2 separate regions of the Homo sapiens genome follow, and region 2 is linked to region 1. The links come from fine-mapping of genetic effects on gene expression. Tissue or cell type: tibial artery. Region 1 holds a variant in brackets; the other region holds the start of a gene. All regions are shown on one strand. Distances are from middle to middle.

Region 1 (5,097 bases):
CCTGGGTAACACAGCAAGACTCCATCTCAAAAAAACCCAAAAAAACAAAAAACCTTTGCTTATTAAGTATAAAGTGATATTAAACTGGTTATTAAAAATATGAAGTGGCTGGCCAGGCACAGCGGCTCACGTCTGTAATCCCAGCACTTTGGGAGGCCAAGGCAGGCAGATCACCTGAGGTCAGGAGTTTGAGACCAGCCTGGCCAACATTGTGAAACCCCATCTCTACTAAAAATACAAAAAATCAACCGGGTGTGGTGGCAGGCACCTGTAATCCCAGCTACTTGAGAGGCTGAAGCAGAATTGCTTTAACTCGGGAGGCAGAGACTGCAATGGGCCAAGATCGCACCACTGTACTCCAGGCTGGGTGACAGAGCGAGACTCCGTCTCAAAGAAAAAAGAAGCAGAACAAATCATAATCAACTGCCCAGCTATATATCCTAGTAGCTCATCTTTATTTTACATCATGTAGTGGGGGAAATGATCAATGTGACCACATGCATCTCTGGTACTCAGATGATGTATTGGCAACACTGCACCACAAAACGCTGTTTTAAACCATCTTACCTCAAGCTTGTGAGCCCTCTCCCTGCTCAGGGGCTCCAAGGGAAAGCTCAGGTTGTTCGCTTCTGCCAGAGAACGAAGATCAAAATAATACTTGGCATAGACACTGGAAGGAACATTGATGTTGAACTGCAGCAATTCAAGAAACTGTCGCTCTAGCTCGTTCCTGCAAAGCAAAGACAAAAATAGCCTATGCTTAGCTGCCACACCAGGCCACGTGGCCTGCCAAGGCAAGTTGCTGGAGACCAGACTCCAGAAAACTGCATCCTCCAGGAAGACCAGTGATCTAAGTAAATGTCTGGTTAGACCACCATATTGGGATTAAAAGCCAAATCCACTTGATCTGGTGCCCAGAAGGATGAGGACTGGTTAACTGGGATCATCACCAGGAAGCGTTTCAGGGCGAATCACTTCACTGAGATCTAACACACACACAGCAGGCTCTGGCTGCAGGTCTCCGTGAGGACAGGCTGCTAACAAAGGGTGGATGCAGCAGCCAAGAGCTGCCACGTGGAGTCCAGTGAGGGCCCTTCCGCAGGGGCCCAGAGGAAAACACTCAGCCTCTGCAGACCTAGAGGACATTGGCTTCCTCGGTGGCCCCTCCCTACCTCCAGGGAGAAAAGAAGGGAGGAACTGTGTAGGGGCTTTCTTAGGCAAAAGGCAGGGATTATGGGGGGAGGGTGTCCAGTCTCTGCCTCAGTCTCTTAAAAAGAGAACTCACAAGCCGGGAAGAATGGAAGCAGTAGTTTCCACACTTGAGCACGCACCCCATCACCTGGTGGGCTTGTTAGAACAGACAGGGGGCTCCACCTTCACACTGTGGGGATCAGTAGGTCTGCAGTGGGGCCTGAGAATGTGCATTTCTAAGGAACTCCCAGATGATGGTGAGGCTGAGGCTCTTGCCCCGGGCCCACACTCTGAGAACCACTCAACTAAAAAGGTAGGTTGGGAGAGGAGGTGCTAAGATCCACCCTGCCAACCCATCTACATGTTGATGGAATGCTGGGAGAAATTCAAAAACTTCTACTTTAAGAACTTCTCATGTCAGCTATCTTTCAAATTAGGTTTATTTCTAGATAGTTCCTCTGGGTGGGGGGAACCTTCTCAGTGAGGGAACTATCTGTGGAGCACTGGTCCTGGGTCATGCACTCAGATTCAGCACGTTCTCCCCAGGAAGCCCCCAGGGGTGCCCACCCACAGGGTGCCCACCCACTGCACACCCTCCAGGAAACCTCCTGTCCTTGCCCACACTATGCAGCATGTGGCTGCTGAACTCAGCCTCTTGGGCTGTTCTCCTCATAGTCAGGAAGTGCAACATCTGCTTTTGCATGCCTGGCCCCCAGCACATGATCTCAGAAGGCTTCCCACAGCAGTGAGAGCTGAACTGAGGTGAGGGAAGCATGGAGCTCTGGCGGAGAGGAACCAGGGCTGAGGAGGGGGTGTTTCAGGCAGAGTGGGTCCCCTCCAACCTGCTGCAGGCAGCCAAAACACACAGTCACCATTTCCTGTGAGTGAAGCCAGGGCCCTAGTGCAGGGCCTCACCCTCCTGACCCTGATCCCAGCCTCGGCATTCTAAGTCATGTCCTGCCAACTCTGCTGAACGCTGAGGGTCTGGGTCTGAGCCTCACATGCAGGCACCATCCTGTCCTGAGTGATGTCCCGAGACCCCTATGGCTGTTCCCGGTGACTCA[T/C]AGCACTCAGCTATGAAGGACTGAGGAGGGCTCCACACCAGCTCAAGTTGCTGTGACAAAGGACAAGAACAGTAAGGAGGCGGGTGGGGAGGCTGGGGCTGAGCAAGGCCAGTGGCTCTGGGGAGACATGAAGCTGCTGGGGAAAGGAGCACTGGGACCTGTGGGCAGGCGGCAAGGAAGGAGGCCCGAGGAAGGCCCATTCCGGTCTCTTCATCAGATGAAGAGCGTCACTGCTTGTTTCCACACAGCCTCGTGAAAAGAGTGATAACAAGCTCCAAATGTATTTACTGTACTAAATTTCATAGTTTTAAGAATTTAGGCTGGGTGTGGTCACTCACACCTGTAATCTCAGCACTTTGGGAGGCTGAGGCGGGTGGATCACCTGAGTTTAGGAGTTTGAGACCAGCCTGGCCAACAGGGTGAAACCTCGTCTCTACTAAAAATACAAAGAAAATTAGCCGGGCATGGTGGCACATGCCTATAATTCAAGCTACTCAGGAGGCTGAGGCAGGGGAATCACTTGAACCCGGGAGGTGGAGGTTGAAGCGAGCCAAGATTGCGCCATTGCACTCCAGCCTGGACTACAAGAGCGAAACTCTGTCTCAAAAAAAAAAAAAAAAAATTAGTCAGGCATGGTGGTGGGCACCTCTAATATCCCAGCTACTCAGGAGGGTGAGGCAGGAGAATCACTTGAACCCAGGAGGCGGAAGTTGCAGTGAGCCGAGATTGCCCCACTGCACTCCAGCCTGGGCAACGAGAGCGAAACTCTGTCCCAAAAATAAATAAATAAATAATAATTTACTTTGATTTGGGATAATTTTTACTTAAAACAACTTTTATTTATGCTTCATTTAAATGAGATTTAATAAGAGATCATCCTGTGAAATACTGGAATCCAGGTAAGACTTCAACAAAACGAAAGCGTCAGAGGCCCTGCTAAGGCCAGAACTGTCAAACGTCAAAGGAGCAAATCCCAAGTGAACCTGGGAGCTGCCATGGACACACCGCCGTCTGGTGGTCAACAGGCGTCACTGCAAAGCGTATTCTCCCAATAGTAAGAAGAAAAGTCTAAGAGAACAGCCTGATAATCCTGCCCAAAATGATATACAGACACCATGGTTCCAGATGGAGGCAGACACTACGAGCAAAGTCAAGAGGAAGCTGCTTTTGAACAAGGCGGTATTTTCCCAGGGTTCCCTGGAAAACAGAACAACCTTCTCCAAGCTTGAGTTTCTGGTTAAGCTTTGGGAAAATAGATTTTAGAGCTGTTGTATTTTCAAAAAATGAATTTTTTTCTAAAGATTTAGAAAATAAAAATAATTTCCAAAACTTGAATTTCCAAACTGCAGCAGCACATCTTTTACAGGGACACTGACAGCTTGCTATGTGATAAATTATCAGAAAACTAACGTGATGCCAAGAATGGGCCTGATGGATTTACTATCTGCATTTAGATAACTATGAAGAAACAGTTTTGGTGTAAAACGTTGTAAGAAATATATTCAAGTCGACCAACAAAAACCACATTTCAGAAATATTTGTCACACTAGATCAACACTGTATAAAAACCCAATTTGGTACAATTCAGCAACTTGAAAATAGAACTCTAAAATGATGTTAAAAAGAGCTGTTTTAATCATCTAATATGCTGCCTACTTTTCTAGAAACTAGGGTCACTTCCCAAAAGAAGGAGAAACAAAGTCTTGAAAAGGTATCTGCATAGCCACACTTACAGCCTCCACTTACTAGCCCAATGTGGAGGTAACCCAAGTGTCCATGGGTGGATGAGTGGATAAACAAAATGGGACACAGACCCCCAGTGAAGTATTATACAGCCCTAAAAAGAAAGGAAATTCAGACACACTACAACATGGATCAACCCTGAGGACATTATTGGCAAGTGAAATATGCTGGACACAGAAGGACACAGACTGTATGATCCCACTTGTGTGAGGTCCTGAAAGTAGTGAAGTTCACAGAGACAAAAAGTAGGACAGTGATCACCAGGAGCTGGAGGAAGGAGGAATGGCAAGTTAGTGTTTAACAGGGGGAGAGTTTCAGTTTGCGAAAATGAAGGGTTCTAGAGATGGATGGTGGTAATGGTTGCACAACAATGTAAATGTACTTAGTGCTACAGAAATGTATACTTAAAAATGGCTACAATCATAAATTTCATGCTACATACATTTTACTACAATTTAAAAACAAAACACCACCAGAAACCAGGTATCTACAGAGGAACTGAAGTTCTTTCTCTGTGACCTTCTGTGCCATGCAATGCTTGGACAAGTCACTTGATTTCTCCTTATTTGGATTTGTCTACACATGAAAATGACATTTACGGGAACAGTGCAAAACAAAAACAAGAAACAGACAAACCTCGAGGTGTAATTTTTTTTAACAGTATTTTTGCCTACAGAACTCTGCATGGTGAAATTTCACTGTCCTTTCCCCATCCACAGCGGTTGCCACTTCTTGCTCTAAGCTGGCCTGTGATGCTGTGACCACTGATTGTTGGTGAGAGTGGGAGAAAGGCTGGCCCTTGGCCCCATCTTCCCACATGAGGTCTGCCTGAAGCTAACATCTGACTGGTGCTGGTGACTATCCACATGGCCTGGTGCCCTGACTATTCTGCCTGCAAGTCTCAGTGACACTCGTCGTACAGTGTTCTTCAGCCTGCGCCCACAGATACGCAGCTGCACAGTCAGCTGCCTTCCAAGCCAGAACCCCTCTGTCCAAAGGTACATGGGGAGACTCCCAGTCAAGTTCTCACTGTTGGATAATTCTTGAGCAGGAGATTAGCCTATGGTCAAAAATACCAGGAAGGTCACTTCAGGAAGCT
Region 2 (5,097 bases), 230 kb after region 1:
TAACTCAGTTCAAATACATACAGATATAGATGAGCAAATACAGACATATAGATGTATATAGTGTGTATATATATACACTCTATTTAATTAAAACCTGTTCTCTTCTCTCAGCCTCTAATAATGAATTTCTACCAAAAATGTCCCTGAACGGCAGGTAACACTTCCAAGATTTGCCCAGCCAGCAATTCTCAGGCCTACCTGCATCTCAGAATCACCTTGGAGAGATTTAAACATATTAATGGCAATGTCCAGTACTAGATTTCTGGTTTAACTGAAACCAATGTTGAGAACTGCTGGCTGGGTCAATGCTAGAAGTATTATTTATTGAATTTGAGAGACAGAAGGTGAATTAATATTTCGGGGTTTAAACTAGCATAATCATATGAACTGGGATCTGGGATGAGAGGGCACTCCACAGCCTAGATTGGAAACCTGCCCTATACTCTCTCAAACTATCCTGAATCTGCAAAAGAGTCTTCCAAACATTCTCTCAAAAATTCCTGATGACTGAAACTTAAGATTTCTTTGAAATGAAAGAACACACAATATCATTTCACTGTACTCTGGCAAAATTGTACTGAGCCTTAGTGCCAAATACCTGGTTACACTTATTTTTTCCACCTTATTTCCTTACAATAGTCTATAATAACTGTATGCAGCCTGGCTCTAAGAAATGTAAATCTTCTTTTTTTTCTTTTTTGATCCATCATTCAAAACAAAGCCTCCGCTAGATACTGCACAACATAAAAAGGAAATTTACTGCACATCATAAAGAAGACATTATTTCCAAATGTTTTCGCCTGTCAACATAGTATAGGACTGGGTAATGGCTTTCTGTAATAAACTCATTCATTTATTCCTCCCTTTAAAGTACAATACTTACTGTTTATTATATGCTAGACTTTTCTTTCAGGTGCTAGAGGCTGTGAAAGTGATCAAGACCGATCTGGCCTTCATCCTTCTAGATGCCTTTAAATGCATAAATTTAAGAAGAAAGTATGGCTGTAGTTCAAAGACATCTAAGCGTATGTTTAAAATAATGGAAATCTAAAATAACAACACTAGACACGTCATATGGAACCATAATTTACTAAGCGCGTACTAGAAACCAGACGTTGTGTTACTCCCTTTATACATGGCACTCATTTAATAAAGATGCTCTCCTAAAAAGATTAAACTACCATTTAGAAGAAATTACACGAAGACAAACGAGAAAAATCTTTCCTTTAGCAAAGTTTAAATGTGGCCTTTCCACAGTGGAGAGAATCTTCCATCCTAAAGTGGACAGGAACGAATTATGAAGTTGTGTTCATTCATTCACACAAAAATTTCTTCATATTAGTTCAACCAGATTAACTATGAGAAGATGTTTGGGTTAAAAAAATCACCTTGTCATAAAAAGATACTTCCAATTTCAAATCTTTTCAGTTGAAAATTCTATAAACTATATTTTAAGCATGATGCATAAATATCCCTCTGTCGTTATCACTGAGCAACAGTGCTAATAAATATGTTGCCAAACCAATAAAATAAATAAAACATTACTGCGTGCAGTAATTAGTCTTAGCTTTTTTTCTTTTTGCAAACTCCAGACCAACCAAAAGTCACCTGAATAAATCAGAAATTCATAGGACTGCAATTCGGGCCCATGCAAAAACTGAGACTTAACCCAAAGGTGTCTGACAATCTTTTAAAGAGCATTCTCGGGAGAAGCTATTTGACTAATCCTGGAACCGCCACTCAAAAAAATCATTTTTTAAAAAAAACGGTAGAATGGGAACGGGGGAAGTGGAGTCCATTTGTAAGGTTCCGGGGAACTGACTCAACATGGTTCTCCAACTCGAGGTTGGAGACACCGGGATTCCAAAATGGGAATCCACTCACTTCGCTTTTATAGGACAAACGCGTGCACAACTTGGCTTCGGGCTGCATTCAGGTAGTGCCGGGAACCCCGAGCTCCCGGGCCGCCCCCACCCAGCTCTGGCCGCTCCATTAAGGACGAGGGCCGGCTCCTGTCACCTCGCGACCCACGCGCACACACCCGCCCTAGGCCCGCCGTGCTCGATGCCGCGGGCCTGCAAAGTTTCCGCGGCCGCTCACTTGGGGGTAACCAGCGAGGGGTACGCCCAGAGGCTGCGGGGCCCCGGGCGCCTAGGCTGCGCGGGCGAAGCCCCGGTTATGCACGGGTCGCCGAGACCGGCTGGGCAAGCAAGAGCAGCCGGGCCGCCCCGACGTTGGCTGTGCGACTGTTGCCGCGGGGGCGGGTAGGGGGCTCGGCGGGCCGCACTCACCGTCTATGTTCTCCCGGTCGCTGATGTGCTGCAGGTTGCAGCCCGTGTCCTCGCGGCTCAGGTCCGTGTCTGGCCGGTAGGACTCCAGCCGGGAGTGGGCATTCCTCCGGAGCTTGGGACTGGACGACACGCAGCACGAGGTAGTGTTCCCCATCTTCGGCGGCCCCCCGACTCCTGCTGCTATCCTGTTCTCCCAGTCCCCGGGAGCGGGGCGCGGGTGGACGCGGGGCGCGGGCGGCGGGGGCGTGTGGGGAGGCCCGCCCGCTCGCCGCCACGGGAGGGGGCGGAACGGCGGCCGGCCGCCGGGTCAGCAGCGGCGGCGGCGGCGGGGCCTCGCCATGGGCGGCGGCGGCGGCGGCGGCGACGAGCGGGCGACGGCCCCGGCTCCCCCTCGGCCGGCCTATCCGCGGCGGAGGAGCGCTCGGGTCCGCGCGACTGCGGCCGCCGCGCCTACCTCACCCCGCCGCGGCCATGGCGGGCGGCGCCGCGCAGGCCGCCTCCCCCCCGCGCTTCCCCAGTTGGTGTCCGCTTCCCCGGCGGCTGCGGCGACGGCGGCCGCCTCGGCAAGAGGTTCCGGTTCAAGCCGGGGGCACGCGTGTCCGCGCCGGACGGCGGGACTAGCCGACGAGCGGGCGGGCAGCGGGCGTGGGCGCAGCCCCCGGACTCCTCGCGGCGCGGTGCGGCGCGGCCAGGGAGGATGCTGGCGGCCCTCCCTCGCCAGCGGCGCCCGCCCTCGCCGCAGCCCCCGCCCCGCCCCGTCACCGCCCCTTCCCTCTGCCCTGGAAGCAGATCGGCGGCCGCGGGGAGGTTCGGGGCGGCGCAGCCCCGCGCGGTTGTGGGATCGCTCCCGGGGGCCGCTCCTCTCTCGGGCACTGGGGTCGCGGGAGACGTCGTCGGGAGCTCGGTTTCTGGAGGCCCTTCCCCACCCGGCCTCTGCCTCCTCCACTCCCCCGGGCTGGACGGAACGGGGCCCAGCGCGGGATGCGAGGTGCGTCCCCGGGGCCCGCAGCGGGCGGGAGCGCAGCCAGGGCCCGGTCGGGGACGCAGGCCCAGGGCGCTGAGGCTGCACCTGCCTCTCCGAAACCGGGCTGGCTCTTTTTGTCTTTTTATTTTTCTAATTTATTTTTTTAGAGGTATGATTTCGCTCTGTCGCCCAGGCTGGAGGGCAGTGGCGCAATCTCGGCTCACTGCAGCCTCGAACTCCTAGGCTGAAGCGATTCTCCCGCCTCAGCCTCCAAAGTAGCCGGTACTACAGGCGCGCGCCACCACGCCTGGCTAAGGTGTGTGTGTGTGTGTGTGTGTGTGTGTCTCCAAAGTAGCGAGGACTACGGGTGTGTGTGTGTGTGTGTGTCTCCAAAGTAGCGAGGACTACAGGCTCCCGCCACTACGCCAGGCTAAGGTAGGGTGTGTATGTGTGTTAACTTTTTGTAGAGATGGGATCTCCCTTTGTAACACGGGCGCCCGCCACTAAGCCAGGCTAAGGTGGTGAATGTGTGTGTGTGTGTGTGTTAACTTTTTGTAGAGATGGGATCTCGCTTCGTAACCCGGGCTGGTATCGAACTCCTGTCTTCAAGGAATCCTCCCGTCTGGACTCCTCCCATGGGATTACGGGCATGAGCCACGGCACCTGGCTATTTTTTTTTTCTAAGCATTTAAATAAGCTGGGGCTTGATTTGGGAGTTTTCTATTGTATTTTGAGCTTTGCCGAGGACTTGATAGTGACCTTGCTTTAAGCTGTGAAATAAATCTTGGGGTCCCAGAGCTATTTTAATATTGAATTCGCTGTGGAGTTGTTTTGAGTTCCTTGGAGGTTAACATGAGATAGAAAACTAAGTTAACACAACTCATCGACTGCCCTTGCTTTGCTTTGCTTTGCTTTTAGAATGCCATCGGGTTTTGTCATGTTGGGAACAAGTTAACTTAGGCCAGTTGACTAAGATCAAGGTATGTGAACATGCCTGGCTGGGAGAGAAGTAGAGTAAATGTTGGTTCGCATTCCCTCCCGACGCCCACAATGCCAGCCATCCCTGACTTTTCTTGCCTTTATTGGGAAGAATATAAGGTGGCAGAAACAAACTTCCCACCCTTTTTCCAAATATTTACTGAAGGAGTCTTGAGGAGAGTCTTGTGGGGTGGGGGGGTGGGGGTGGGAGCTGGGAATGTTTTTGAACTAGTTCTTGAAAAAAAAACTAGTACAATAGTACAACTGTCTTAATTTTATATATGAGGAAACTGAGGCCCAGAGATGAAATCATGCCTTGATTTATGCAGACCTCAGTACCTGTTCGTGACAAATCCAGTTACTAAAAGGTAAGAGAAGGAATAAGGGACTTGATATTTATCTAGCATCAGCAATGTGTGGACATCGTGTGAACGGCTTTATAAACATTTCATTTAATTCTCTACATCTAGCCATTTTTTAACCTGTGCTTTCCCTCCCTCTCAAAGTACTGTTTATACATTTATTAGTCCATATTTTAAACGCTCCATGCTCTCAACTGTATTAATGCTATTTGTTAGGATAAGTGGCAGATGTCCATGGAAAATAAGTGGCTGCAAAGTGGTAATGCTGACCAGATGAGAAAAGAAGTGTAAAAGGGAAGTTCTAAAGAATTAAAGCCCTGGAGAGGGTGGGTAGACAACAACAGTCCAAAATAGTGCTCTTCATTGAGGCTGTGTAGATTTTCCTGCTTCCTGGGAAAACTGGGGCATATTTACACTTGCATGTGTGTATTCAGATTGTCTGGGGCTATGGAGTTTGGGTCAGATTGCTGAACCCGTGGGAGAGAAGTTCCCTTGTTGTCTG

Evidence for each region. PIP is the estimated chance that this variant, and not a neighbour inherited with it, causes the effect.
Region 2: it holds the start of CCNY-AS1, and the variant in region 1 is fine-mapped to the expression of CCNY-AS1 in tibial artery (GTEx, PIP above 0.99).

The regions. Positions count from the first base shown.
Region 1 is chr10:35,561,656-35,566,752 of GRCh38, reverse strand. It overlaps CCNY (cyclin Y), which reads right to left. Exons shown (of 10, transcript NM_145012.6): 9 at 568-730. Among named protein-coding and RNA genes, the nearest start is that of GJD4, 41 kb to the left of the region's middle. RefSeq lists enhancers at 1,702-1,781, 2,052-2,161, 2,222-2,331. The variant T/C (reference allele first, on the strand shown) is at 2,256.
Region 2 is chr10:35,334,402-35,339,498 of GRCh38, reverse strand. CCNY-AS1 (CCNY antisense RNA 1) reads left to right here and starts at 3,075. Exons shown (of 4, transcript NR_186477.1): 1 at 3,075-3,279; 2 at 3,423-3,571. CCNY (cyclin Y) reads right to left here and starts at 2,990. Exons shown (of 10, transcript NM_145012.6): 1 at 2,292-2,990. The coding sequence starts at 2,445. RefSeq lists a silencer at 2,625-3,364.